Regions from separate parts of the Homo sapiens genome. Here regions 1, 2, 4, 5, 6 and 7 are each reported to be linked to region 3. The links are microRNA targets in miRTarBase. Many come from high-throughput screens and were not tested one by one. Region 3 holds a microRNA gene; each other region holds the end of a gene's coding sequence.

Evidence for each region. Region 3 holds the annotated microRNA hsa-miR-203a-3p (GUGAAAUGUUUAGGACCACUAG, at 1,747-1,768, shown strand). A microRNA usually pairs through its seed, bases 2 to 8, with sites in the 3' UTR of a target mRNA and lowers its output. Matches are read on the target gene's strand: a 7mer-m8 pairs with bases 2 to 8, a 7mer-A1 pairs with bases 2 to 7 and ends in A, and an 8mer does both.
Region 1: miRTarBase lists HEPHL1 as a target of hsa-miR-203a-3p. Seed matches in the 3' UTR shown: 7mer-A1 at 2,055-2,061.
Region 2: the mRNA of MARCHF3 is a reported target of hsa-miR-203a-3p. Seed matches in the 3' UTR shown: 7mer-A1 at 1,113-1,119.
Region 4: miRTarBase lists TASOR as a target of hsa-miR-203a-3p. Seed matches in the 3' UTR shown: 7mer-A1 at 1,110-1,116.
Region 5: the mRNA of GINS4 is a reported target of hsa-miR-203a-3p. Seed matches in the 3' UTR shown: 7mer-A1 at 3,730-3,736.
Region 6: miRTarBase lists STOM as a target of hsa-miR-203a-3p. Seed matches in the 3' UTR shown: 7mer-A1 at 1,914-1,920.
Region 7: the mRNA of RAPGEF1 is a reported target of hsa-miR-203a-3p. Seed matches in the 3' UTR shown: 8mer at 2,788-2,795 and 8mer at 3,621-3,628.

What each region holds. Positions count from the first base shown.
Region 1 is chr11:94,111,461-94,115,677 of GRCh38, forward strand. It overlaps HEPHL1 (hephaestin like 1), which reads left to right. Exons shown (of 20, transcript NM_001098672.2): 19 at 77-145; 20 at 232-2,748. The coding sequence ends at 434. Among named protein-coding and RNA genes, the nearest start is that of PANX1, 15 kb to the right of the region's middle.
Region 2 is chr5:126,867,191-126,871,407 of GRCh38, reverse strand. It overlaps MARCHF3 (membrane associated ring-CH-type finger 3), which reads left to right. Exons shown (of 5, transcript NM_178450.5): 5 at 617-3,694. The coding sequence ends at 775. Among named protein-coding and RNA genes, the nearest start is that of LMNB1, 92 kb to the right of the region's middle.
Region 3 is chr14:104,115,723-104,119,939 of GRCh38, forward strand. MIR203A (microRNA 203a) reads left to right here and starts at 1,683; the gene lies at 1,683-1,792. MIR203B (microRNA 203b) reads right to left here and starts at 1,781; the gene lies at 1,696-1,781.
Region 4 is chr3:56,619,506-56,623,505 of GRCh38, reverse strand. TASOR (transcription activation suppressor) reads left to right here. Exons shown (of 24, transcript NM_001365635.2): 24 at 1-3,374. The coding sequence ends at 469. It overlaps CCDC66 (coiled-coil domain containing 66), which reads right to left. Exons shown (of 18, transcript NM_001141947.3): 16 at 3,979-4,000; 17 at 3,605-3,729; 18 at 1,669-1,974. The coding sequence ends at 1,888. Among named protein-coding and RNA genes, the nearest start is that of TASOR, 62 kb to the left of the region's middle.
Region 5 is chr8:41,541,293-41,545,509 of GRCh38, forward strand. It overlaps GINS4 (GINS complex subunit 4), which reads left to right. Exons shown (of 8, transcript NM_032336.3): 7 at 517-607; 8 at 699-3,738. The coding sequence ends at 795. All of the region lies in intron 1 of GPAT4-AS1 (GPAT4 and GINS4 antisense RNA 1), which reads right to left. Among named protein-coding and RNA genes, the nearest start is that of GINS4, 14 kb to the left of the region's middle. RefSeq lists enhancers at 1,655-1,884, 3,849-3,998, 4,059-4,148.
Region 6 is chr9:121,337,583-121,341,582 of GRCh38, forward strand. STOM (stomatin) reads right to left here. Exons shown (of 7, transcript NM_004099.6): 7 at 1,405-3,826. The coding sequence ends at 3,620. Among named protein-coding and RNA genes, the nearest start is that of STOM, 31 kb to the right of the region's middle.
Region 7 is chr9:131,576,238-131,580,452 of GRCh38, reverse strand. RAPGEF1 (Rap guanine nucleotide exchange factor 1) reads left to right here. Exons shown (of 27, transcript NM_001377935.1): 26 at 62-190; 27 at 806-3,678. The coding sequence ends at 956. Among named protein-coding and RNA genes, the nearest start is that of PRRT1B, 33 kb to the right of the region's middle. RefSeq lists enhancers at 1,025-1,104, 1,305-1,434, 1,465-1,514.

The sequences.
Region 1 (4,217 bases), not on the chromosome of region 3:
AAATGAAATGACTAGTGTCATGAAAAGAATCCCCTTCTGTTGTTAATAAAACAATGAACTTGTTTTCTTTGTGCAGACAACAGGATTCCTTACTCCACCACATCTCCTGGAGTGGCATCTCACCCAGCCACGGTGCCATCTAACGGTAATGATACCCTCTCCCCATGTAAATGAGTCAACATTTCACCCCTCAAAAATGTCAGGGGCCTGACAAGTTTATCTTTTTCACAGAACGACCTGGCAAAGAGCAGCTCTATTTCTTTGGCAAGAATCTGGGTCCAACAGGAGCCAAGGCAGCCTTGGTCATCCTTTTCATCATTGGACTCCTCCTTCTAATCACCACGGTGATTCTCTCCCTCAGACTCTGCTCTGCAATGAAGCAGACAGATTACCAGCAAGTCCAGTCCTGTGCTCTCCCCACGGATGCTCTGTGAACCATCTGGTCTCCCTCAACAGGAAAGGGTGATGTCCCACAGCTGGCCAGATGGCAGCCAACAGGGAAACTGGACCAAGGCATCACTCACCAAGGAAGGTTGACACTGTATCCTGGATCAGCCTTCTGATCCTCTCAAACATCATCCAAAGCAATTTGCTTTTATTTATTTATTTTTAAATGGGCTGCGAATAATCCTCAGGTATAAAACACAGAAAAAGGAGAATGGGCATGGCTGAGAATGTCAACTCTTAGTCTATTCTTTGGTTGGATTCACTGAATAGGAGACACTCTGAAAGATATCTTTATATTCCATCTTTTATAATTCTTGAACAGTGCTTTCTTAGCTAACCACCAAAGTTTCTAGGTGAACAGCTTCTAGAAAAAGTTAGAGTGCCTCAGACATTTAACTGGAAGGGCACTACTTTTTCAACATTGTTGCATAACATGCATCCCTTGGTTCTGTGGAAAATATCTTTCTTAGGAGTTCTTGGCAATGTCTAAGTCAGTGTCTGCTGATAGAATTAGACCAAATAAATTTTTTGGAGGCTTTAACCAGCTCTCCTGGCCTTTTCCTCTTTGATATAAATAGCCTGTGCAGTGCTTGTTTTAAAAAGCAAAGTTATACGTTTTTTAAAAAATTGCTGCTGTTTTTATTCAAACCTGTAGAAATACTTGAATGTTTACAACTCACTTCATGTTACATGTTTTTACAATATGTTTCTGTGGCAATGTTTGTACTTTCAAAAATCAAGTAGAGAAATTGTATTTCTACTGCAGACTGTGGGAGGGCTGAAATCTGTAAAAGAACATGTTAGGCTCTCCCTTTATGAATCAGGGACTCCCTGAGAGTTTAGAGCAAGCTTTCTATCAGGGAGGGAAGCTTTGCAGGAGGCAAGTCTGGGCTTGAATTTGGAGTCTGATTTTTCATTCAGTTAGAGGGAATCTTTACAAGTCCTCATCTTCTATGAAATTATAACATTCTCATTGTATGAGAAACATCAGGAGGAATTTATCAATGTAGGTGACTAGATAGGAGAAGGGACCTCTAAATATCCTAGATTCTATGGCTTTTAAAGACATACCTCTTCATGGAAGGAGAAAAAAGGAAAAGGAAAGGTGAGAAAAAGATAATCTTGGTGGCAGATTCTCTTAAACCATTAAACCAGCTTTGAAAATTAATAAATAATTTCCAAGGTTCAAATGCAAAAAAATTATTGAACAACTAAACTCAACCCATTATGAGGCAATCTACACTGTCCATACCTATGCTTAGACAGTAGGTGTAAGATTGATAAAAGTAACATTGTTTATTACAAGACTGAGAAATTGCTTTTAGCTCTGGGCGAGATGCCCTGAGATTCCAATGCCAATGCTAGATGAGTGATACTGGTATGCCTGCCTTAGCAGTGGGTAATTTGAATGTCAAAGTGAGTGACAAGGACCTAAGAAATATTCTGGTGGAGGGACCTTTCACACTGTCTCATCTTCATCTTCATGAGGGGAAATGGGTAATTGGATAGAAGCTATAGTCTTAACATAAAAGGGGATGCAAATGCTAATAGTTCTGTTCATAGTTTGCTTGAATGTCATATCAAACAGCATACACAAAAGATTTTGAATTTCAATCTGCTAACCATTGACAATGTGATTTCATAGTACATGTTCTACAGTTTTCATACATGTGTAGGCTGCATAATTTCATAATTATGGTAAATGCCTTATTTATTACCCACCTTAGTAAGACAAGTTGTTCAGTTGTTTTTTTTTCTTTTCAGTTTATTTTTTTAATGAAAACAAAACCACAAAGTAGTTTGATTGCATCATTTATCATTTTAATAAAGTGTCACATAAGGTGGCTATTTGCATGGTTATTTTCACTTAAAATTATCTATCACTGAACTAGGGGAGGTGGTTAAAGTGGAATTAATTTTTAGATATTTAGGGGCTATGACTATGCCAATGACACTTGTTAGAGGAAATGAAACAAAATAGTGTATCTCCACAAATAATATGACTTCTCAAACATTGTTTCCTCAAACATAACTACACTCCTTGTTCTCAGCCTCACTCTTGAGAAAATCAACTCTGCCTTCACTTACACACATATTTCTTCCTATTACAATACACGTGTCCCTGCTCCTAGCAGGACAGTCTCTTCATTTGACTTTGGGTCTCATTGCTTCTTGCTTTCTCAAGACTTCATTCCCTTGGGTATCCATTTTTCCTCCTGCATCTTTCTATGAAACCATCAGCAATGTCCGCCATTAAAAACAGAAAGCAATGTGCTGTCTTATTTAACTCTATAACCCCCTCCGACACAGTTTCTCTCTTCCTTTGATAGCAGAACATAGAGGTATTCACACTTGGTGCCTGTACTACCTCACCCCATGCATTCCTCAGCCCATTCTGATGGCTTTCAATCCAGCGTGCCCAGCCCCCACACCCCAATCTGCTGTGGTAGAGATCACCAATCATGATGCCATTTCCAGTGGCTTCTTCTCCATCTTTATCTTACTCAACCTCTCAGCAACAAGAAACAGCTCCTTCCTTCTGAACACTCGGAGTCTCTAGTCCCTTGGCTCTGCAACATGACTCTCTGCCAGCCTTCCTTCTTCCTCAATGACTATTCCTTCTCAATCTCTTTTTCTAGTTCCTTCTCTTCTGTCTGACCTAAATGTTAGCATGCCTCAGAACTTGACACTGGGTCCTTTTTCGCTTTTTACCCTCTGTGGTAGGCTGAATATTGCCCCAAAGATGTCATGTCCTAATCCCTGAACCTGTGAATGTCACCCTATGTGGCAAAAGGGACTTTGCAGGTATGATTAAGGATCTTGAAGATAGGAAATTTATACTGGATTATCCATAATGGCCCTATATGTAATCATGAGTGTCCTTATGAAAGAGAGGCAGTGGGAGATTTGGCTACAGAAGAAGGCAATATGACAACCAAGACAAGATGCCATGCTGCTGGCTTTGGAGATGGAGGAAAGGGCCATGGGCCAGGGAATGCAAGGAATGCATCTCCAGAAGCTGGGAAAGGTAAGGGAAAGGATTTTCCTCTAGAGCCTCCAGAGAGAGGTTGGCCTTGCAGATATCTTGAAACTGATTTTGGACTTCAGAGGTCCAGAACTGTAAGAGAAGAAATGTGTGCCAACAAGTTTGTGGTAATGTGTTACCAGCCACTCCATAGTTTATTTTATCCATCCTTATGATCGGAAAACCATTTTTATGCAAACAAATTCAAAATGTATTTCTCTAACCCTGACCTTGGGCTGCAGATTCACACAAATCCTGCTTGAGTAGGGCCACTGCAGCAGTCCCCAAACCAGCCTCTCCATCATCACTACTGCTCCTTTCCACCACTGTCCACACATTGCCTCACGTTTTTCCAAATTTCATCACTTTCCTGGTTACTACCCTTTACTGTCTTCCCATTTCACTTTTAATAACATCCAAACTCTTTACCTTGGTCTTTAAGACCCAGCTTGACTTGGCCCATGCCCACTCCTCCAACTTCTTGAACTCTGCTCCAGCTTTCATCCGCTCCTATACTCTGCTAGTTCTTTCTTGCCTCAGGGCCTTTGCACATGCTGCTTTCTATGCCTGGAATGCTCTCCCTCCCTAGCTTCCTCATTCCCTCTCTGTATTAGTCGGGGTTCTCTTAGAGGGACAGAACATATATATATATATATATATATATATATATATATATATATATATATATATATGTAAGAGGATAATAATACCGGTCTTGTGCTTTAAGATGATTAATCTGCCAGTC
Region 2 (4,217 bases), not on the chromosome of region 3:
GGGAGTTAGTGGCCACACTGTGATTTCCTTATTGGAAGCTATAGAATGCTGGAGCTGGATGCAATTAGGAATCACCCACTGGGGCCACCAGGCTGTTGGGCAGGTTGTCCACAGGACAGTACAAAGGGTGTCCTTCATATCATAGTATGAATGGGATCCTTTGAGTTGTGCAGGGTCTAACTTGCAGGAAGGTTCATGAAGCCCTAGCATCCCACTCATCTAACAGAGAAGAACCTAGGCACCTGATAGGCGCATTGCTGAGGTCACACAGCTGGGCGAGGGCTGGCATTGTATCCACCACTAGTCCGAAAATAAATCCAAACTCAGAAATAACCTCATTTTCCCATTTATATCCTGAATTTACCCGGTATGAGGAGGAACAAAGGAAGCCACCATGCAAGCCCTGCCCATGTGTCCACACATAGGGTGCTCTTTGGCTGGTGCCCAATCTCTCAACACTCACTGCGTGCCAGAGCCATTTTCCCAGGGTTCTTGCCCTGCCATAGTGCTTCCAGCTCTTTGAAGCTCTTTCAAATGACATATTTGTTTCTTGTATTGATTATCCACTTCTGCTGACCTGAATTCTTTTCTCTTACTTTTCCTCTCCCATCCCCAGGTGTCATTTAGGTACCACTGTCGATTGTACAACGAGTGGCGTCGGACCAATCAGAGGGTGATTCTCCTCATTCCAAAGTCTGTCAATGTACCTTCTAACCAGCCGTCCTTGCTGGGCCTCCATTCGGTCAAGAGGAACTCAAAGGAGACAGTTGTTTGATGTTTGTATGGTTGGTTGGTTGTTTGATTCATTGTTTGGGGTTTGGAAGTGTCTGCACTGGGGTCATGCACTGAGCGACCCCCAAGCCCTTCCTTAAGCCTGTGGGTCTAAGAACATCCAGAGCATATTAGCACATCACTCCAAGCAACAACCTCCGCCAGAAGAAAGCAAATGCTGTTTTACTTCAAATGATGGATGCTGCAATCATATGATATTTGCTAAGCTGCCAAACATGTTTATTTAGCAGATACTGTATGGAATTTTCTGAACACCTCTTTAACGTATGAGGAAGGTTGTCCTGCTACGGATGCAATTCAATTCTTCCTTTTTTATTACTATTTCAAACACACACACATATATATATATATTAAACTTAGATGATAATCAAAATCAAAAAGTCAACGTAAAAACTGGTTTCTTGGTTTGGTTGGGTCTTATTTGAGTTAGTTTGTTTCTCAGTTTCTCGTATGGATTCTTTGGGGTACTTTGGTAGCCTGAGTGGTCTTTTTCATCTCTTTCGCGTCCATTACTCAAGGAGACAGCATAACAGATGCAGAACAAGTCATATTTGAAGAATGTTTTGTACTAAACTTCATTTAATTATTCAGTTTTTAAAGGGAAAAAGGGCGTGAGCTCACACAGTGAGCTGTTTATTTAAATATCATTAAGGAGAAAAAAAAATATGGTGAGAAGCTCGCTCCTTTCAACTTGTTTGGTACTGACAGCTGATAGAAGCTATTTTCTAATAATAAACATCCAGTGTGTGAAAGACAAAACCCACTGATTGCAATACTCTTTTTTTAATGATAAAACCTGTGAAGTTTCCCAAAGCAGGTTTTAAAAGGAAAAAAAGGAAAAGCAAAAAGGTTGCTGTTCTCACTCCCATCTCATTTAGTGCATGTCTTAATTCGGGATTCGTAATGAATTGGAGGATCATTAGACATTTCTAGGAACCCTAGACCTGTTTTGCATGTCAATTAGCATTCCCATTGCTCTATTGAATTTCTAGCTTGACAGGTAGATGTGGCAAAAAAAAAAAAAAAAAAAAAAGCCTGTCCTAGCAGCCCTGCACTTATTCTAAGACCCCTTTGTCTGATTCTTTAAAAAGGAGCCCCACACAGTGCCTTCCCCCAACCATGAGCCAATTCTGTCACAGTCCGAAATAGACTTTTTCTAAGGGTTTCGTGTCCCTCTTTTATCCGTCGCAGTGTAAAGGGTCTGATCCGCAGCCTGCATTGTGCGCGCACCGAGGCAGGAGCGGATGTCTTCTGAGGAGAGCGCTGGCTGGGGTTGACTCTCAGGCTCCCGGCTGTCCGCCCGCCCACACGCAGCGAGGAGGGGCGGAGCCCTGCTTCCGGAATGCTTAAAATATGGAATTCTAGAACATGACCCACATTCTGAGTATCACTCCAGCATCTGCCTTGTGTTCCAAGTGGGAAAACGAGAAGTGCAAAGGAACAGGCAGCGAGGAGGGTAGCGATTTTTGTCTGCAAATTGATGGAGCTGATGCAGGTGTCCCCTTTGTAGGCGAGCCCTCCATTCACTGGCTGCTCCCAGCGCTGCCTGGGGAGGGAAACAGCTGTACTGCTCTCCGCTGCAAAACTCAGATGTGCTTTATGGCTTGTGACAATAGATTTCCTCCCCACCACGCTTCACTGGGACACTTCAATTCCAGTAATATATGTCTCAGCCCTTCTGTTTACTGCGCCCTGCTCACCCCCCTGGGCTGTCATTAGCTGCACCACCATCAACCGTTTCTTAATTGACCTTTTTAAAATGCTGGACATCACCGGCTGCACGCAGCTGCCACACATTAAATTTCCAGAGCAAAGAGTCCAACTTGGTAGCTGGTGAATTGCAGCCCTGTAATATACTTAATAAATGACGTCCACCCAGCCTTAGTCCCTGAGCTGTCAGGTGAACCCGTGACACGTCTCAACTGAATGGCACAACATTCATGAGAGGACCATACCCCTTCTCCCTGTTTCTTGCATGAATTAAGGAAGCAGCGGATTTCCAGGATGATTTCCTGTCAAGGTTGGCTGCAGAGAATTCCTGCCATCTTGGTTCATGAGATGAGATATGACATCATCAAAGGCAGCCAGGTCCCAGGCCGTTCAATGGGGATCCTGCATTAGGAAGGGTTTGCACATTAAAACTGTGCCTGTGCCACACCTCTTTCCTTCGTGTTTGCATCCCTGCCCTGTGAAGTAAAACAGAGTCCAAGATGCAAGGAGTAGATTGTGTGTGGGGTGGTGAAAGGACACCCCTGGCAGCCAGGCAGAGCATCAGTGCCTCCCTTCCCAGGTCACCAGCTTGGGACCTCCTTGTGAGAGGCTCTGATCTCCATCAGCATCAGGGCCCATAGGGGATTCTGAACTCTTGGAGGATATTTCATCCCCTCCAAGCCTTGCCCCATGGAAAGGGCTACACCTCCTGCAGGAAGGGGTGCCTTTTGTTAACAGGTATTAATGGGTACAGAGGCACCATGCAGCCTACCAGCACCCTTGCTAGCCTAGTCCTCTTCCTGTGCTTCTTTTTGAAAGATCAAGAATGAAGAGGAAGAGATGAGGAGTGGGGGTCCTTTACCTAAAGGACCCTCGTGGTTCATTGCTTCTCTTTAACTGACTTTTTAAAAAAACTCCCTCTTCCACACTCCTTGCTGTGATTCTGTCCTAATCATTTTTCTTGAGAATGTCATGTAGAGATAAATGTGTGTCACAGTGAAGCCAGAAGGTGAATTAACAACTAAGACAAATCCAGCATGCTCTTGCCTGCCCTGCATATGTGCTCATTTGGGGAAGGACGGAGGACACAGAGCATCGACACAAATTCTACAGCTCCTCAGAGAACACAGCAGAGACTCAGATGAGCTGTAAAATCCATTAAGGAAAAATAAATGGCATGATTTGGAAGTTACTTTGATTTGTCTTTCATTGTCCTAGTCTCCCCTGCCCCTAGTGCCTGGGCCCTGCCGTGGATTGTCACTTTCAGTGGGGCTGTAGCCATAGGCATTTCATTTTCAGTGAAAATAATTCATCTGCGGCATGGAGGAGCCAAAGGAGAAAATGGAGGTGAAATCGCAGCCCAAGTGACCCCACAGTTGGGCAAGCAGCCAGCTTCCGGTTCCACTTCCTCCTAGATCCTTATTGTTCCCATTGGGACACTGACCCTGGCTGGGCTCTGGGTCTGCGCCTGCACCGTGCATCTTTCTCCCATATTGGAATCCGCTCAGCCTTGCCTGACACTCCACACAGCTTATGGAGCTGTCCACACTAGGAAATGACCCATGGCCCAAAGAACCTGAGTAGGAAAGACAGCTAGAAAATGAAATCAGGAAATGCTTCCTTTCCACTTCAATCCAGAGTGTTCCTAGAAGCTGCCTGAAGATCTGCCACACAACTTGTAGTCCCTAGTGCTAGATGAGAAATGTAGAGTTGTG
Region 3 (4,217 bases):
AAAAAAAAAGAAAAAAAAAAAGAAAAGAAGAGAGGTGGGTTCTTCTTGCCCATGCAGTTGTGTTGGGGGAGGAGCTCCCAAGCTCCTGTTCTTGATCTCAAGCTCCCCTATGCCCACTTCCATCCCCACCCCCATGCCGCAGCCCCTCGGACTCCACACCCAGGCACTGAGACCCACAGATGCAGCGATGGCAAGGCCTGTCATCCCTTCTCTACCACCAAGAGCTGTGCAATCCCCAGAAGTCACTGTCCCTCCCTGAGCCTCAGTTTCCCCAACTGCAAAATGAAAATAACAAAACCTTTCTGATTCCCTTTCCAGGGTGGCTGCGGTGGTTGAGCCACACGCGGCCCATGTGGAAATGTCTGGGGGGTCCCTCAGATCTGGTGGCTGTGTTCTGGTCTGGGGCTCACCTTGGCTCCTGAGCACTTGGCTCCTGGCTGGCTGGGCGGGTGGTGGGATGGCGTGTCACCGCCCTGCACTGGAATGAATGGTCACCACCCTGCTGCCCAACCCCATACAGACACACTAATGGCTCCAGACTTGGGGCAAGTGCTGAAGGGGGCTCTAGGGTATTTCCTAGAGCCTGAGCCCTCCCCTCAGCTGCCATGTTCTGCTGAAGCAGAGTCCCTGGGAGGCGCCACTGGTCAGGCCTGGACACCTCCAGGTGACTAAGTGGGTAGGACCGGCAGGGCCAGCTGCGCCAGGACGTTCGGGGCTGGGCTGTGAGTGGGGGGAGCGAGGCTCAGGCCCTTGCTGCGTGAGGGGGTAGGGCGTCCCTCCCCCCGCGTGGGAAATGAGGAGGCAGGTACGGGGCTACCCCTGTGGGCTGCGGGGTGGGGGTTCAGGGTCTGAGAAGCAGAAACCTCCCTCCCTCCAGTTTCACTTTCTCTTTACCCCTCCCCTTCCCCCTCCCACGAAGTTCCCTTTGAAGTGAGAGGGGCTGGGGTGGGTGTGTCCAGCCCAGCCCCCACACCCACCGGAGAGCTAGCGCGGCCCTGGGCTCCTGTCGGGCGCTGGTCCTCACCTGTTCCGGCCACCCTGGGCCTCGACCCGGCCAAGGTGGAGCCCCGGGCCCTCCGTGCGCCCGAGCACCCCCGGCCCAGACGAGACGGTTCGGGCGTGGCCCGGCGGGGACCCAGAACCCGGGAGGCCAGGTGCGCCCAGGCCAGGCGCTGGAGGCTGGGGCGCCGGATGGGGCGGGGCGGCCGCTGAGTCAGGGCCACCCCCGCGCGGGCGCGCGGAGCAGGTCCCCGGGCCGTGGAGGATCAGTCGCGGGACCTATGGGCCCGGGAGCCGCCCCGCCCGGAAAAACCGGTCGGGCCAGCGCGGCGCGGGCACATTCCGGCGCCGGGAAGGGCGGCTGCGCCGCATAAAAGGCGCCGCCGCGCTGGCCACCGCCGCTCGGAGCTCAGCCGCCCTGCCACGCGGGGCCCGCGGGACGAGGGGACGCCGGGGCCAGCGAGGACGCGGCGGGGCTGGGCTTGGCGGCTGGGATCCCCCAGCGCCAGGCGAGGGCGTCTAAGGCGTCCGGTACGGCGTCGGGGCCGGGTGGCTGCAGCAGGGCAGGGGGTGCGCGACCAGCGGGGATCTGGGCGCAGGGGCCGGTCCCCGGGATCCGCAGGCGACGCGGGCGGTCCCAAGGGCGTCGGGGGCTCCTCTCTCCGCAGCTCGGCGAACCGACGGTGTTGGGGACTCGCGCGCTGGGTCCAGTGGTTCTTAACAGTTCAACAGTTCTGTAGCGCAATTGTGAAATGTTTAGGACCACTAGACCCGGCGGGCGCGGCGACAGCGACGGAGCGTCCCACGCGCGGCCTGGAGTCAGAGTCACAGTCAGGGGTGCGCCGGCGACCAATCCAGGGGAGCCCACGGACCGGCTCCGCGCTCCAGGTCGGCCGCCCCATGCGCCGCGCCCCGCAGTCCCCAGGGCCTGGCTGGCTCCACCTGCTGCCAGGGAAGACCCTCGGCCGGAGAGCCAAGTGCTGCTGGGAGGTGGCCGGGCGTGGCCGGGCTGTGCTGTGGGAACCGCTGGGTGGGGGCGCGCTGGGTTGCCCACGCTCCTGGCGCGCTGCCGGCCTGGAGACGCCGCCGCCGCCCTCTTGCACCCCGAGGGCCCGCACCTCGAAACTCCGTGGAATTCCCAGCGAGGAACTGGCGGTGGGCCCGTAGGGTTGAGGAGCGCTCCTTGCCCTGGGCTTCCTGGGAGCTGCCCATCAGGCTGCCGGCAGCCGCACCCTGCTGGGCGGCCGATGGTTCCCGCTGCCGGCTCCCCGGAGCGTCTCCACTCACTGAGGCCTTAGGGAGCGCTGCGCGGCTCCTACGAGTGCGCGCTAAACTCGTGAAGGACCTCGAGGCACAGGAACTGGGGGTGGGGAGGAAGTTTGCAGACTACACCCAGGTAGAGGAGAAGCGGCGCCCATGATGACAGGTGCCTTCGCCGGAGCCTCCCTGGAACCTCGTGGTAGCTAGCGCCCACAGGAGAGGTGTGCGCGTCAATCTGCGTGTGAAGCCCCGGGCGGCCCTGGGAGGGACTCAGCAAAGGGTCGAATCTGTCCCCACCTCCAGCCAGGGGCCGGGGTCTTCTGCCTGGTGCTGCCTGGCCTGCTGTGTCCTCTGGGGTGGAGGGTCCCCCTCCAGTCCCCACCTCCTCACCCAGTGTTTAGAGAGCTGCGGGGAGTCCTGGGAGATGGGTCAGACAGGCCTGGGTTTGAGGCCTGCTAGGGTGGCCTTGGGCCAGTCACCTGCCCTCTCTGAGCCCGACCTGCACACATAGGGGGTTGATGTGAGGAGACAGGAGGTGACTGTGGAGGGCTGTTCCAGAAGAGGGCCAGCAGCAGGACAGCAAGGTCCCCTGGCCACCCAGGTGGGGGGAGTGGAGTTCCCGGGAGAGCATCCACCACTGGCCAGTGCCTCCTCTGTTGCTCAGCAAATGCCATTGTGGCCACCTCTCAGGATCTGGCTTCAGAGCTTGGGGCCGTGGGAGCGCCCAGTGGGTCTGTGGCATCGGAGGGGTTGGAGTGTCTTCCCCAGCTGCTGCCTGCTGACCACCGCAGCCCCCTGTAGCCATTTCATTTTACAAGCACGTTCCCCCGTGCCCTCTGCATGGGCCCTCAGCCCTCAGCAGCCCCGTGAGAGGGGCTGAGGCTCAGGTGGGAGATGGCGGCTGTGTCCCTGTTCTGCGGCTTGGAGGCATTCTGTCCGGTGTGCGTCTGTACAATTTAGACTGATGACAATAAACATGTTCCAAAGCATCGCTGTGTCCCTGGGGTGCTTGTCCTTTTCCCCCAGGCCTCAGCGTGGTTTCTCCCTTGAAAGCAAGCCAGCCTTTTCCTTCTAATCTCAGAGAAGCAGAAATGAGGATGGTTGGTGGAGGGGCAGTGGCCTGGTCCTTACCCAAGACCCTCCCTCAACTCTGCCTCTGGCACTTTGGTCTCCAGGGAAGCCCCCAGCCTCTGCCACCAGCTTTCTCGTTGCAGTGACCTCCCCTGGGCCACTGGGCCAGACCCCCTCCCTCGGGTTTGAGCTGCACTGCCTCAAGGAGCCAGGCTGGGGAAAGGGCTTGGCTCCCAGGGGCCCCACTTTCAGGGGCTCCAGCCTGCTCCCACTCCCCCCACTCACCACAACACTGCTCCCTTGGCTGGCTCCCACTCATTCCCGCTGGAGCCTGTAGGCTGGCCCTGGGGACCTGGCCAGGAGAATGGGCAAGGTGGGAGGGTTGAGGGATTGAAGAGACAGAGGCACCTTCCTCCACCCTCCCTGCCTCTGGCACAGGGGACCGAGAGTCTGTCGTGCATTCAAACCCCAGCTCTATGCCTACAAGCAAGTGACCTTGGCAAGTCCCTTATCCCCTCGGAGGACCTGTTTCTTCCTTCTGTAGGATGACGTGGAGCTCGCTGGAGGTTCCCCTGACATGATGCAGCACACTTCCTGAGTGCTCAGCAGGGCAGAGCTCAAGCTGTCACTGGAGCTGATGTGGTGGGAGGGCCAGTGGGGGATCCTTGAAGAGGCCGAATTTCAGCCAGGGCCTCGGAGGACCAATGGAAGGCCTCAGGTGGCAATGAGGTGTGGTCTTACAACAGGCCCCTACTTGGTCCCTGGGGACACCAGGAGGACAGGCCCCTACTTTGCTGAGACTAGACCTGTGCTTCCTGGCACCCCAGCCCCTCCACTCCGGCCTCTCCAGCCTCTGCCCCTGACCCAGGTGGAGGATGGCTCCTCGG
Region 4 (4,000 bases), not on the chromosome of region 3:
CTCACATATAGAAGTATGCAGCAATTTTCATTCAGAAATATGGGAGAAAGAGACCAAAGGATCACGTGGAACAGATCAAAAAAAGAATACTCAAATTGAGTTGCAATCGTCTCCTGATGTGCAAAACAGTTTATTAGAAGATAAGACTTACCTTGATTCTGAAGAGAGAACTTCTATTGATATAGTATGCTCTGAAGGAGAGAACAGCAATTCAACAGAACAAGATTCATATAGTAACTTTCAGGTTTATCATAGTCAATTAAATATGTCCCATCAGTTTAGTCATTTTAATGTTCTCACTCATCAGACATTTTTGGGGACACCATATGCCCTTTCATCAAGTCAGTCTCAAGAAAATGAGAATTACTTCTTATCTGCTTATACTGAAAGCTTGGATAGAGATAAATCTCCACCTCCCTTAAGTTGGGGGAAAAGTGATTCTTCCAGGCCATATTCACAAGAGAAATAACTGTAGTAACTTTTTTTTTAAGAGATTGTTGTGGACTTTGTTTATTAACAATTTATATTTCATTCTCTAAACAAAAGGTTCTTGTTCTTTCTCAAATGTTTTTTCTTTTATTTAAATCATGATGGCCTGTAACAGTTGAAGCATCTAAAAATTGAAATAAATATATATTTTTAACATATATTGTACTTGAATTATCTCATGTTGGCACTTCTAAGTTTTACTTTTTGTATGTTACCTGTACTTAGGCTTCAAATTGAAGCCTGTTTTATGTGTAAAATCAGATGCTTGCAGGAGGACGGTAAACAGCAAAGGCTTTACTTCTTTTTCTCTAATGTCACCTGATATAAAGTACTTTTGTTGAAGTGAATTATTTTGATGTAGGCTTTTGTATACTGTGTTTACACAGGTATAAGTCAGTAATAGCAGTGTTAATATTTACAGGATTTTGGCTCGATACCTCAAGATTTATCTAACAGTGCAGTTTCATTTAGATAATAAACTATGTACATAGGACACATTTTTTATCTCTAGGCTTAGTCATGTAAAAACTGCCTATTGCTAAAATTCTGGTAACTTTTTGAGAGTATTGGATAATTTTCAGTACCTGCGCAATCCTTGATTTAATGAAATTAAATTTTTTATTTCAAAAGATAGGCTTCTGTTTATCAAAGGCGTTGAACAATTTGATTTTTAAATTAGTTTTAGCAAAATGGAAGTATAATGGGAATATATTTTTGAGGTGGTCTTAGTAGTAATTACCATTTGTTGAACACATTAATGCTATACTAGACAGATACAGTGGAGATAGCTTTCAAACCCGTATCTATTCCTAACTACTGCCTCTAATACTAATTACTAACTTGTTACTAATGCTAACTTTTAAAAATGTTTTTGAAAATTGCAATTTCTACAAATAAATGTCATAGTGCAAATAAATGTCAGGATTTAGAGAAGGAGCCTAAACTGAATTTGTGTTATTTCAGTAAAAGTTATGGAGTTATGGGTCTAGACGTGTTAATAAGTTAGACAGAACTTTGGCACTTTAGAACAAATGCATGAGTGGTATTTCAGTTCCTAAGTTACATAAAAAGTGTGAAAGAACACTGTGAGGTCCCAGCAACGCCAGACTATATTAAGGTAAGTAGAAAGTGTTTTTATAGGGCTTCAATACCCAGGTGGTGACAGAGCAGAAGAACCGGTTTTTTTTTTTTTTTTTTTACTACTAAGCTTTTACAAAAGAAGTATCTGTTTTATTGTATAGAACAAGTACAGCATTTTACTACATAGTATACAAGTTTTTAATGAGCATTTAAAAAAATAAGTAAATCTAGGCTATTTGAAAAATACAGTTGAGCCAGTGAGCACATTTTATAATTTGGAAGACACAAATCAAATGTGAAGGATTTGATTTTCTACATTTAAAATGAAGAACCAAAACTCTCTTCTTGATTTTCAGCTAAAGGCAGGAGACTACTTTCCAACTCCTTTTGCTTCTGGAGAAGGCCCTGAAATCACATTGATATATGTTTGTTAGTAAAATGTGCACACCTGACTTGCAATGTTGTGTTAAACTAGAATTATATTCACTTGGAAAACATATCGCTTAGGATAAAATTTTGTCATTCAAAAATTTTTTCAGAAATGCTTGTACTAGACCACCTCATTTGGATATATAGCTATCACATTTGTAAGATTCTGTTTTTAGCATAAAAATCAATAGGGATGAAAATTTTCTTAGAACTCAAGACTCCATAACTATGGGGGTAAATGAAGTCATCCCTTCTCCCCCAGTCCACCCCCAAGTGCTCTTAGATACTGAAGGAGTCTCCCTTAACATACAGTGTTTTTTTTTTGTTGTTGTTGTTTTGTTTTTTTTTGGAGATGGAGTCTCGCTCTGTCGCCCAAGCTGGAGTACAGTGGTGCAATCTCACTGCAAGCTCTGCCTCCCAGGTTCACACCATTCTCCTGCCTCAACCTCCCGAATGGCTGGGACTACAGGCACCCACCACCACGCCTGGCTAACTAACTAACTAACTTTTTGTATTTTTAGTAGAGACAGGGTTTCACTGTGTTAGCCAGGATGGTCTTGATCTCCTGACCTCATGATCTGCCTGCCTCAGCCTCCCAAAGTGCTGGGATTACAGGCTTGAGCCACTGCTCCTGGCCAACATCCAGTATTTTATCTTGACTGTCCTAACCTTACCTTAGATGCTAACAGAAGGGTCCTGCTGAAATAACACTGGGTGCTATATTGATGGGTAAATGTGTACATCCTATTCCTTCCTCTTTATCTCACAATTTTTGTCTCCACTAAGCAAGAAGTAAACTAACACTTCGTCACTCTAAAGAAATAACTTATGTAAAACTCTTAGTAACCCTGTTTGTCTTCAAATGAGTAAATAGACCAAAGTGGGGGGACAATTTTCTAGTTCTGTAGAGGGAAAAACATCTGAGTCAACATTTTGAAATGCAGAGGGTATTGGTACATGACGACATGGAAAAGGGCACTTTTAAACACAGCTTACTCTTCCTCAAGTACAGAGAGTATATAGTGAATCAAAACTAACTACAGCCATTCTTTTTAAAGCCCAAGGGATGGAGCAAAGGTGTAAGGATGTTACCTGTTTGTTTTAATCAGAGAGCAAAAAGAAGTCACAATAGTTTGGGAGAAAAAGTAGTATGGTGAGTAAGGTTATGCGTATAATTTCATACTGAATTTATTACTATTTGGGATGTACGTCAATGTTCTAACAAACACTGCCAACACGTCAATTTTTTAAAAAGCGTGGGCCACATTGCTAAGAATTTGTTAAAGCATAACTGTATTTTTTGTTTTAGGGCCTTATTGATGTTTTGCCGTTCCAATGTATGCATTTTTTTACTCAATAAACTTGTCTTAATTTTAGAACTGTCTGATGATTTCGTACTGGAAAGAACTACTCAAAGACGGCAGTGTAAAAGCAAGTCTTAGGAAAGTCCCATTTTATTTGTGTCTAACAAACATACAGGAACTGAAATATTTTTGTTAAATCCTGGGATGCACCGAAGTAACTTAAAACAAACCGTTCAACAGGTTCCCCCAACCGCCCACGCCACATAAAGAACAGACATATCTACACTTGAAAAAGCTCATACCTGTCTCAGTTCTGAAAGTCCCTTAAGGATTGCTTGCTGTCGATCCCTATTTTTCACCATGTTAGGATTAAGAAGTGGATCCCTGACACAGTCAGAATCAAATAGCTGTCGTTTTTGGCCACAGTCTAAAGCCAGATGAAAGTAACAAGTCAGTCAATTACATTAGTAAAATGACATAGCCCTGTGCTATATAATATTGTCAGGAGTCATTATAATAAGTATGTATCCTAGGAAAGTACTAAGAAAAATTTAAGACATATTCAAGAAACTTTATAGAACTAAGTGCAGGAATTACTAATTTGGAATTTAAAGTTGTTGACGGGGTTTACATGGGTCTTCAATTTTTACAGTTAGAATGCTTAATATTTACTTACCTTGTGAATTTTGGTACTGAGG
Region 5 (4,217 bases), not on the chromosome of region 3:
CAAACTCCTGGCCTCAATTGATCCTCCAGCCTCAGCCTCTCAAAATGCTGAGATCACAGGCATAAGCCACTGTGCCTGGCCTATTCTCTTCTTATAAGACACCAGTCAGATTGGATTAGGGCCCACACTACTTGGCCTCGCTTTCACTTAATTGCCTCTTTAAAAGCCCTGTTTCCGAATACAATCCCACGCTGAAATACTGGGGGTTAGGGCTTCAGCGTATGAATTGTGCAGGGACACAGTGTAGCCCATAACACCAGGAGCAAGTCAGACCCATACCAGACTTGTGGAACCCTGAATTGGTCATTTTGCTGAGGCTGCCTGAGGAAAACAAAAGGCCCAATGCGTGTCCGGTTTCCTCCCTGGTCAGCCACTCTGTCTGCATCTTTGAAGAGTAGGAATGGGCTGGGCTCCTATCTAAACCCTGAGTGTGCCATACCATTCTTCCCAGCAACTTTTACTTTGTTGACTTTGTTGGCCGAGGATTTCCTAATCACATTGTTGTTTTCCTGGCAGTTCCCAAACCAGATCTAGATTCTTACGTGTTTCTGAGAGTGAGAGAACGACAAGAAAACATACTGGTAGAACCAGACACAGATGAGCAGAGGTGAGTGGCGTGCATCTTTCACAGTGGGCACATTCCTCCCGATGGAGGGCCAGCCGAGCTCTGCAGGCAAATGTGTTTCCCTCTTTTTCAGGGACTACGTGATTGACCTGGAGAAGGGCTCACAGCACTTGATCCGATACAAAACCATTGCACCTCTGGTTGCATCTGGAGCTGTCCAGCTAATTTAAAACTAGGCATAAACAGCCAGGCATGGTGACTCAAGCCTGTAATCCCAGCACTTTGGGAGGCCGAGGCGGGCGGATCATGAGGTCAGGAGTTCGAGACCAACCGACCAACATGGTGAAACCCCATCTTTACTAAAAATACAAAATAATTAGCCGGGTGTTGGTGGTGTGCACCTGTAATCCCAGCTACTCAGGAGGCCGGGGCAGGAGAATCGCTTGAACCTGGGAGCAGGAGGTTGCAGTGAGCCGAGGTCGTGCCATTGCACTCCAGCCTGGGTGACAGTGAGACTTTGTCTCAAAAAAAAAAACAAAAAACAAAAAAAAAACAAACTAGGCATAAACTCATGAGGTCAGGAGATCAAGACCATCCTGGCTACTAAACCCCATCTCTACTAAACCCATCTCTACTAAAAATACAAAAAATTAGCCAGGCATGGTGGCGGGCCCATCTACTCAGGAGGCTGAGGCAGGAGAATGGTGTGAACCCGGGAGGTGGAGCTTGCAGTGAGCCAAGATCGTGCCATTGCACTCTAGCCTGGGCGACAGAGCGAGACTCCATTTCCAAAAAAAACACACTAGGCGTAAACAAGAATGAAGACCTGGAACCGTAGAGAAAATACTAGAAACCCCTCGTATCACGTTGTGCCTGAGGACAATAATAAAGTAGTTTACTAGGCATCAGACATTCCTCAGCAGTGCTGTGGGTCACGGGCGTGAAGCGGAGCTCGAGGCAGGATTGCTTGTGTTGCTGCATGTCCTGTCTGCTGTTTTAGCCCGTGTCAGTAGATGGGGCCATTGTACTGTTTGTTCTGCACACTTGGCGGAGCAGCAGAGGCTCTCAGCACGCCTTTTCCCTTTGTAGTATTTTCTGAGCTAAGGAAAGTCAGGCAGAAGTAGTTCATAAGAAGGCATCACTGCCTGTGATCGGGGCTGCATTTAGCCCTGACCTGATAATGGTAGGAGAGTTCATTTAGCCTTTCTGCTGCGAAGATTGTAAATAGATTAAAGAAAACAGCTGTGGCCTTCTCCCGTCATACATCATTAGACTGTGTAAACTAACATTTTAGAACCTCTAATATTGGACTTAAAACCAATTTCTGTCGTGCTTAATTGAAAATCACAACTAAACCAATAAACCATTATTAAATTTCCATTCTGCAGCAGAAGGCACCTCTGGACGGCTCCCGGCTTGTAGTTTAATGAAGTATGTGCTCCCTGCTGTTAACCCGCAGCCCTCCCCAACTCTCCAGCAGCTTTGCCAAGTCAGCCTCCGGGCCATCTGGCTGTCCTTGGCCAAGGCACTGTTAACGGAGTGACGTTAACCATCTTGTATTGTGACCTGTGGCCGCTTTTCTGGTTTAAGTCCTTCACTTTTTCAAGAGGAATGGATGAAATTAATGTGCATGCAGAGTCTCACAGTGATGCCGGAAGGAAGGATGTATAGGCAGTGAATGAATGATCTTTCCTTGAAATGCTATAAAAAGCAACCTGCATTCCAGTCTTTTCTTCCTGGTTGAAGTTGGCAGATTTCCATTTGCAGGGTATGGGCTGCGAGAGTAATCAGGGTAACATTGCTGTCATTTCCAAGAGAAATCAGTAGGGGAAAGCAAGGGAGGTCTTTTTTTTTTTTCTTTTTTGAGACGGAGTTTCCCTCTTGTTACCCAGGCTGGAGTGGCAGTGGTGTGAACACGGCTCACTGCAGCCTCCACCTCCTGGGTTCAAGAGATTCTCCTGCCCCAGCCTCCCGAGTAGCTGGTATTATAGGTGCACACCACCACACCCAACTAATTTTTTGTATTTTTAGTAGAGATGGGGTTTCATGATGTTGGCCAAGCTGGTCTCGAGCTCCTGACCCCAGGTGATCCACCCACCTCGGCCTCCCAAAGTGCTGGAATTATAGGCGTGAGCCACTGCGCACGGCCTGGGGAGGTTTTATTTCTTGACAAAGGTATTTGATACTCGTGCAGTCCCTGGAGGGTCTCACTGGAGAGACAACATTTAGGCTGAGATCTGATTAACAGGAGGCAGCTGCAGTGCAGAGGTCAAAAGGGAGGGTGTTCCAGGCAGAGAAAACAGCCTGTGCAAAGGCCCTGAGGCAGAAACAAACTCTACTTGAGGTCAGCCTGGTTAGAAAGCCCAACTCAAAATAGAAAGTATTACATGATAAGGTCTGAGGCAGGCTGGACCCAGATCTTACAGGACCTTGTTAATAAGGATCCCATTTGGTCCCCCACAGTCCTGAGAAGCGGGCAGGGCTGTGGGAAACAGCAGATATTTAGTGGTAAGCCTGAGATCAGAACCCAAGTCTGCACTTCCTAGTCACGTTCTCCCTGTAGTGCTAAGCCCAGAGACCTGAGCTGTTAACCTAGAACAGTGTGCTTCCTAAGCCTTAATGTGCATACCCATCGCCTGGAGCTCGCCTTAAGATGTAGGTTCTGCCTGAAGCCCAAGTTCATTTAGTATGTCATGGTTAATTCAGAGTAAAATCAAGAGTTAGTACTTGATTTATGCTTGTTATATAAAGAAAGAGACAACTTCACTGTATGATCATTTTGTCACTTTTCAAAAGCATTTAATTCCCATTCAATTGAAAATGTTTCAAGAACAAACCTGTTTGGTCATTTTATTGATATTGCACATTTGTATATGAATAAATTTTTGCAAATTAAAAAAAAAAAAGATGTAGGTTCTGAAACAGGGTGAGGTCCAGGATCCTGCCTTTCTAAGGAGCTCCCATGTTGTGCAGTTGCTGCTGGCCCGGGGACCACATTGAATGACGGCTCTACGTCCTCATGCCTCCAGCTGCTGCCCTGTACATGTCCAACTGCACGGAGCACTTTACATCCTCTAAAACCACAGTAAATTGCTCCATTTCCTAAATTACCTCTTCAAGAGAAGACTGGTTTTGATGTCATTTTTAAATAAAGGAGAAGTTGAATTTCAAAACCAAGTGGAACAGGAAATGATGTGACTTGGTTGACATTGATTTTAACATTTGGTTCATGGTGAGTGTTTTGCTTTATTGTTAAAAACTCGCCACTAAAAGCATGACAGAACATTTTATCAAATGATGGCGTCATCCTTTACCGTAAGTTTGCCCCTAGCAAGACAGCTCTTCCTGAGACGTGCTTGCAGGCCGCTATGTGGGTTTTCCCACCGCAGTCATCATCCGTCATCTGTGACCTTGCTGCATTTACTCCATGCTCACACCCCAGCAGCCCGCCTGGCTTTGGCATCGCCCTCAGAGGCATCAAACTTCCCCTGCTGCAATGTACAAGAGTTAGCCAGGAAGCTTGCAGAGTGCTTTGGTTTTGTTTTGTTTTTTTGACATGTCGCCCTGGCTGGAGTACAGTGGTACAATCTCAGCTCACTGCAACCTCCGCCTCCTGGGTTCAAGCGATTCTCCTGCCTCAGCCTCCCAAGTA
Region 6 (4,000 bases), not on the chromosome of region 3:
GCCTCATTGTTCTCATTGAGTTACTTTATATTCAGTAAATGTTATAAATGTGAACTCAAGAATTTATCCTGGCAAAAGACACCGTAAACCTTTTACTGATGCAGTTACCTTTGAAAAAAGGGGTTTGCTGCTGAAAGTAAGAGGAAGAGGCACTTGATTCACTATTTACTAGCCAAGTAACTGTGAGAGCAGGTTTGTGAGTATCACAAGAAATGATATATTTTAAAATGCTACATAAGCTGAGAGTCTATGGAACACTGGTTTCCTCCTGCTCAGGACAGTGTGTTATGACATTTGTGGTTACAAATGCCCAATCGGGCCGGGTGCAGTGGCTCACACATGTAATCCCAGCACTTTGGGAGGCCGAGGTGGGCAGATCACCTGAGGTCAGGAGTTCGAGACCAGCCTGGCCAACATGGTGAAACCCCATCTCTACTAAAAATAAAAATACAAAAATTAGCCGGGCGTGGTGGCATGCGCCTGTAGTCCCAGCTACTCAGGAGGCTGAGGCAGGAGAATCGCTTGAACCCAGGAGGCAGAGGTTGCAGTGAGCCAAGATCACGCCATTACACTCCAGCCTGGATGACAAGAGCGAGACTCCATCTCAAAGAAAAAAAAAAAACAAACAAATGCCCAATTGACTCTCCTCTTTTTATAGTGAACTTTGGCTGAATTGGATGGCCCAAAACAAAAGTTTAAGTTTAGGGCCCAGTTAGGTGTGAATGTAAAGACAAATGAACTTTGATAGTCTTGGGAAAAGTTGTGATCTATCTACAAAATGGTGGTGGTGGTGTGTGGATGGGGGCACTAGAGGCAGGCAGTGTCACACGAAGATACACTGATACACCTCACAAATCTTTGGCATTAGACAGATCTGGGTTTGAATCCCAGCTCTGTTTCTTTCCGACCATGTGACTTTGGCTGTTTTAACCTTTGAGCCTTCAGTGTCCTCATCTACAAAATGGTGATAATAAAGTGTCTATCAAACCATTTTGAGATAAAATGATAGAATGTACATACACGTATTTGTGCACAGAGCTGAGTGACTGGTGCTCCCAAATGGTAGCCACTAATTCAAGACAGTTCTGTCAGATGTTGCAGGTAAAACACATTGGTTTTTTATCATTATTTGTTTCTTTTTAAGTAAAGGCTATGTCTATGTGATTAACTGGGTGACAGCAAGAAGTGGGTTCCTGTCCTGTTTGGAGGAAGGCAAAAGAAAATGAAGTCAGTTAAAGCTTTGTGGTGGTGGTGGAGGGTGTGTGTGGATCTTGAAACTCCCCAGGGAAAATGTGTGGGCCAGTGCACCAGAGGGTGCCTGGACCTGGGAGACAGCAGATGGCCCACAGCAGCCTGTCCCCTTCCCCTGGCCCACAAAGCACACGAAGAAGCCAACCAGCCAGCTCAGAACCGGAGGATCTAATGTACTACTTCTGAAAACGGAAATCCACAGACATTCAATACAGGCCGAAACAGACTCTCACCCCAAAAATATTAGTGAAAGTGCATACACTTTATTATGTACATTGTTGGAAAGGGAGGCCACCTGGAGAAACTTCTGCACTGGCACTGTGTTCCTAGAGCTCCTTCTATGCGTCCCTCCCAAGTGATTTAATTTCAGCTGATTGGACTACGAATTCACAAGGCAGAAAAGTCAAGGTCATTTGGTATCTGGAGACAGGAGAACTCAAGGAACCAAAAGCACTGTTACTCTAAGTCTCAGAAAAGGTTTTCAGTCAGGATATGGAGGCTCCTGGTCCTCAAGGGTGAACCACTTCACACAACAGATAAAACCATCATTTTAAAATTCAAAATGTAAGTGCAACTTGAGTTTAAGTTGCACTGCTCCATACCTCTAATAAACTCAGCTAGGAGCCAGGATACATGGTAGTTCAAGGCTTCCTAAAATAAGCTTGAAATTGGGGTACAGGGGAAGGGACATCCATTGGCTGGATGGACAGAGTGGTTGAGCTAAAGAGAGCTATAAAGGCTCGTGCTGGGAAAGAAAGCTGTTATGCTTAGACTTCTCTAGGTGAACTCAGAGTCTCAAAGAGGAAATGTTACAAATGTCACCCGCCAGCTTTCTGGCCAGTAAGCAGAATGCCAGGTTGCTCAGATTCACAGACATTTGCAAAACAGAAGATGTCTCCTAATATTATAGACTAAGAATTTGTTGTCCAGAGGAGCTGACCAGTTCCTCTTTCAGCATCAATATACATGATAGAAGAATGACTAGGTAAATTTAAAAAGACCTACATCTATATAGATATTGTAAGTTTGACAGTATCTGCCCAAGATCATTAGACACTATATAGTCAATATACTGTGAATTCCTTATACTATGTAATGAATGGGTTTGTAATCAACATATTTCACAGTGTACCACAGTTAACAGCATGCAGATAGTAAAATATAATGGTTTCCTGAAGTTATCTCTTAAAAAAGTATTTTAGTCCTTCAGCTATTCAAATAGATATATAACAATTGCATATAGAACGTAGAGAAAATTTTATTAAAAAATTAAAACTATTTAAAACCTGATATATGAAAATAGGCAACAGTGAGAAAAAAGCACTTTTGTGACAAATATTTAGCTGGTTTGAAAGACAGAACAAGGAGGAATCATTTACTCATAAAGAAGGCTCAAATAAGTTAAAACATGGATGTATTTTTAAAATGACCACTCTAGTAGTGAATTTAAAAGTCTTTTAAGGGTTAGAGTAATCTTTTTCATTAGTCTTGGCTATTTCCTCTAGTTCTGACAAGTACAGGCAAGAAAATGGCTACTCTCAAGTAAGGATTATTCTGAAACACGGTCTGGATTTAGAAAATAAATGAACATTAGGGAAATTTCCTTAATTAAGACTCTCCAAACCAGGTGTGGTAGCTCATGCCTGTAATCCCAGCACTTTGGGAGGCAGAGGTGGGTGGATCACCTGAGGTTAGGAGTTCGTGACTAGCCTGGCCAACATGGTGAAACCCCGTCTCTACTAAAAAACAATAATAATAATACAAAAATTAGCTGGGCATGGTGGCATGAGCCTGTAATCCCAGCTACTGGGGAGGCTGAGGCAGGAGAATCTCTTGAACCCAGGAGGCGGAGGTTGCAGTGAGCCGAGATCATGCTATTGCACTCCAGCCTGGGCAACAAGAGTGAAACTCCATCTCAGAAAAAAAAAAAAAAAGACTCTCTGGAGGTAAGGCACATATGACCTGGAGAAGCTGGTTGTGGTGTAAGGTCATCACTTTCTGCAAAGCATTTAGCCAGTCAGCGGTGTCAGGTGGCAGTTACAGCCCAGGTTCTTGCCTCTGGCCTGGGTGCTTAGGGGGTTCAGAATGAGTCAGTGGAAGTCAAAACAAGAGGGATCTAACCTACTACATAATAATCTAAAAATACAAACTTTTAACTATTTTAAGACTAACAGATTACCTTATATAAATCACCAATCTCTCAGTATTTACAAGCTAACAATTCTTTCACCTATTTTTATAACTGCTATACATTCTGGGAACACCACAATTGACATATGGAAAAAGAAAAGCCCTACCCTCTCTTTATGAGTTAAAGGCTAATTTGGTCCCCGACTTCATGCTTGGAAGGCTAGCGCTCATCTCTACACTAGCCTAGATGGCTGTGTTTTGCCCCTATGATTCCTTGCAGCATATCTATGGGCAGAGGGAAGACAATTGTTGAGTTTTTCTCAGCAGCAATGGTGGTCAGTGTCTGCAGGTATCGGAGCTGAAGGGCTGCAGGAGATTCAGTGATGACCATGGAGGCTTCTTTCAGAGCCCTGGATGCATTCATTTCTCCTTCGGCTGCAATAACCTATGGACAGGTGAAAGGAGGGGTTGAACTGGAGAAAACCTCATGGGGACACACAGCACTCTTCAACCGGGGGTATGTATACCTCAGGTGGTCCACAAAACTTTCTAGGGCGTATGCCAGAGTAGTTTTAAGAAAATCAATTTCTACATACTCAGTTTCCATATGCTTCTTTTT
Region 7 (4,215 bases), not on the chromosome of region 3:
TCTAGCCCTTGCTGCTTCCAAACCCCGTAGCAGTAACAGGCTGCCTAACCCGTCCTCCCAGGGGGCTGATCCTGCAGGACCTGACCTTCGTTCACCTGGGAAACCCAGACTACATCGACGGGAAAGTGAACTTCTCCAAGCGGTGGCAGCAGTTCAACATCCTCGACAGCATGCGCTGCTTCCAGCAGGCGTGAGTGCCACTGCCCCGGGGGGACCAGGCAGAGCTGAGCCCCGGGCCACACACAAGGAGAGACAGCCCGGGACACCGAGGGGAGGGGGAGCCACAGAGGACCCAGGGACCTGCCACTGCTGAGATATAGTCCGGGCCCTTCAGTTTCTGCCAGGATGACTTGAGAGCATGCCCACCAGGCTCCATGCCAGGCCTAGCCTGGCCCTGGGCCTGGACCCCGTGACAGCACAGCTCGTCCTCCCATTTTACACACCAGAAGCTGGTGCCCACCTTGCTGTGAGAAGGGCCTGACAAACCCTGGCCTGCCTGACTCTGAGGCACCAGAGCTCCCCCAGGGCGGGCCCTGGCATGCGTTGTTGGGGGCAGTGGGATCACCTGGGGCCCCCTCCCTGTGAGCAGCCCAGCCTCAGGGCCCTGTTTGTGCTCCATGTGCTGGTGGCACCGTCTCTGAGCACTGGTGTCCCCTCTGTCACATTGGTCAACGGTAGCCCCTGCAGCATCCGTTTGCTGCGAGGCTGTGGGGATGGTCCCCGCGGCACCTTCCAGGAGGGTGGCGCCATCGGGCCATCCAGCCCACACAGGTGCTCACTGACTGCTCCCCATCCCCTGCACCAGGCACTATGACATGCGGAGGAACGACGACATTATAAACTTCTTCAATGACTTCAGTGACCACCTGGCTGAGGAGGCCCTATGGGAACTGTCTCTGAAAATTAAACCCAGGAACATAACAAGGAGAAAAACAGACCGGGAAGAGAAGACCTAGGAGCAGACGCCGGGATCCAGGAGAATGCTCGAGGGGCGCAGAGGGCAGCTCCCAGACCGGAGAGGACCTTGGACCTGTTAGGCGCATGGCAGGAGTCCCGGCCTCGGAGCCATGAGGCTGGCCAGCCCTCAGCGGGGCCGGGCGGGAGCTGGAGCCTGCCAGCCGCTTCCTGCCTCCTTCCTCTGTGGGAGCAGACCCGTGGGCCTCAGGGCAGCCAGCAGGCAGGTCTTGTTGCCAATTTACAAACCGGTGGTTTTCTGGTTTGGTTTTGTTTTCTGCTTTTACTTCCATCTCTCCCCTCTTGACCTTCCACCCACTCCCCTCCAGGGAGAGAGCAGCAGAGACCTCATCAGCAGACCAAGGAAGTGGTGGGTGCTCCCCCTCCCTAAGCTCCAGGGTCCCTGAATCTTCTGAAATCTCAAATGAGTGGAGGCCTCCTGGGGTGGCCTGTCCTGCAGGGGCCCTGGAATGGGGGCAAGCAGCTGGGTGGGCAGAATGCAGAGTAGACTCGGGGGAGGATCCTTTCACTTTCCGCTTCCCCTTCTGATGCATGGAGGATGGTGTGAGCTTTTCAGCAGGCCCGGAAAGGTACGCAGGTGACGCCTTAGCAGCCCCGCAGCTGGTGCTCTGCCCCGCGGTACTGGCGCCATCAGGGCCTCCCTTGCCCGCCTGAGAGCAGCAGCAGTCTCTGTCATCCCGTCGCCCCTTACCCCCCACCCCAGGCCACTGGGCCCCTCCCACACCACCTGGGGAGCTGAGAAGAGGAGGCTGGAGTAAGGGAGGACTTGATCATCCAAGAAATACTTTTTATTGCTGGGAGTCTTCTGAACCTCACCAAACTGAGGCCAGAGCTGAGCTCCTGGGGGAGTTAATTCAGAGGGGAGAGGCCAGCACCTCCCTCCTCCATCGCTCGCTGTGTGCCTTAAACTCCATCTCATGTCCCTCCCCATCCCCTGGCTTTCCCTCCCTCCTTGCCCCATCCTGGGCCAGCCAGCAGGGCTCCTCCTCTGGCTCTTCAGACCTTTCAGCCAGTGCTGTCAGTGCCCCTGGGAGGGAAGGGCATCCCTGAGGCACCCGAATGGTCCCTCAGGGTGCAGGGAGGCAGAAGCCTGGCCACAGAGGAGCCTCCTAAGGCAGCAGCTGCAGCAAGCGCACCCTCTCCCCACTCTCCCCACGCCAGAGCGGCTTCCAGAGCAGATGCTGTTTCCATCCTCCTCGTCAAAACCATTCTCGCTGCTGAGCTTGACAATCTGGGCAAGGCTTGTGGGGCGCTTGACAAACAGAATCTGCCCTGTGCCGCCTGGTTCCGTGGCCTCCAGCATGAGCCTGCAGGCAGGGCGCTGCGGGAACCCAGTTGTGCTGCCCCAGCCCATGCCTCCGGGTCTGCTGTGCATGAATGAGTGCTCACTTGTCCCGGGTTTAGGACGTGGTCAAGTGAACAGCAGGGTCTAACTGTGCTTACTTAGCCCAGTTCAAACAGAACAAAGGAAAAATATAGAAAGCAACATCTGTTGATCATTTAGGTTTTTTTTTAAACCACCATGTCACTTTGAGTCCTTCATGGGTTTTTGAACAGCATTTATCAAGAAGAAAATGTGGGCTTTTTCCCCTCTCCCGTGTTTTGTTTGTCCTGTAGATAGAGGGAGGAAAGCCGTGCAGTGGCAGGCGGGACCCCCTCTGGTGGCGGGACCCCCTCTTGCGGTGGTCTTGCGGGGCCAGCCGGGACCTGTCACTTTATTATTTAAGGAGTGTGTGTGTAGAGTCGCTGGCTTATTAACAGTATTGTGTGTGGGTTGGGTTTTTAGTTTGTTCCTTCTTTTTGAAGTCCCTTCATTTCAATCCTTGACTCTCTCTCCCCTTCCCTTGCCCAGCTCTGTTGAATGCTGCTGTGCGCGTGTGAGGGCCGCTCTGCACACAGGGCCCTTGGGTTGTGTGAACTGAAATTCTCCCTGTATTTGTGAGACTCGCAGGAGTCCCCATCTGTAGCACAGGCAATGCCAGTGCCATGCTGCAGCCTCAGAAACCAGGCCTCTCACTCCAGCAGCAGGCAGAACCGTGTCTGTGGTCGGGTGCTGTCCACAGCTCTGTCTGCCTTGTTCTTGGGCTTGAGCTGGATAGAGGTGGGGTCTCTTCACCTTCCCTGAATTCAGAACAGACCCTGTGCCTGGCCCCAGTGTGCCCAGGCAATTCCCCAGGCCCTCACTGGGAGCCCTTGGTGTTCTGAGCAGCAGGGCCCAGGCAGCACATGAGCAGTGCCCAGGGGCTCCCTGCGTGAGGACGGCAAGGTGCGATGTATGTCTAACTTATTGATGGCAGGCAGCCCCCTGTGCCCCCTAAGCCTGGCCCTGGTTATTGCTGAGCTCTGTGCTCAGTGCTGCGGCCTGGCCGTGGCTCGTCTGTTCCTTTGGGGGGCCCGGGCGGGTTGTGGGAATCAGTCTTCACAGACAGACGTGAGCCAGGCGGAGGACTCGTTCCTTGCAGAGGTCAGTCCTCACCTGCAGGTGTCGGGGTGTGGGGGGGCAAGGAGGGGCAGGCACACACCATGTCTGACCTGAACCCGATTCTGGGGAGCATCTTCCCGCTCCGGCCCCACGACCTCCACAGGGTTACATTGTAATATATATGCCCCAGCTAACCTGTCTGATGGTGGCATCTTCCTGCAGACATTTCAAACATGTAACTTTTATATGAAAAAAAATAAACACAGATGAAAGCTGCCCAATGCCATGTCCGCGCCCAGCTGCATGTGTGCAACTACAGTGACAGCCCAGCCTGCTCCATGCTGGCCTTGCCATCTCTTTTCTGAGACCCCTGTCGCAGGCGGGGCTCCTGGGAGGCTGGGGTCATTCAGCTCCACTCCCAGGCCCACTTGCTGCCATTGGGGTAGTCGTGGCTGAGTGAAATGGACGTCACCAGAACTTTCCCTCCTAGGCCTTGTGCCCTAGAAGCATTCAACTGGACAAAGAATTGCTCGTGCTCCAGAGGTCGGTTCATGCACAAGAGCCCCTCACCCCAGTGTCCTGATGAAAAGGGCATTCCTCGGGTGGGATTCGGGGGCACAGGCTCTAGAATTGCTCCTTCGGGGCCCGGAAGCACTGTCTTTATGGCGTGCCTTTTGCGGTGTGTCCTCTGCCGCCCAGGAGGCAGCACACAGAGGCTCGGGCCCAGCCCCAGTGAAGAACAGCAGAGCCTCTGCACTTACAAGGGACAGAGTGAGGAGGCCCCAGGGATTCCAGTCCCTTCTCTGCCCCGAGGTGTG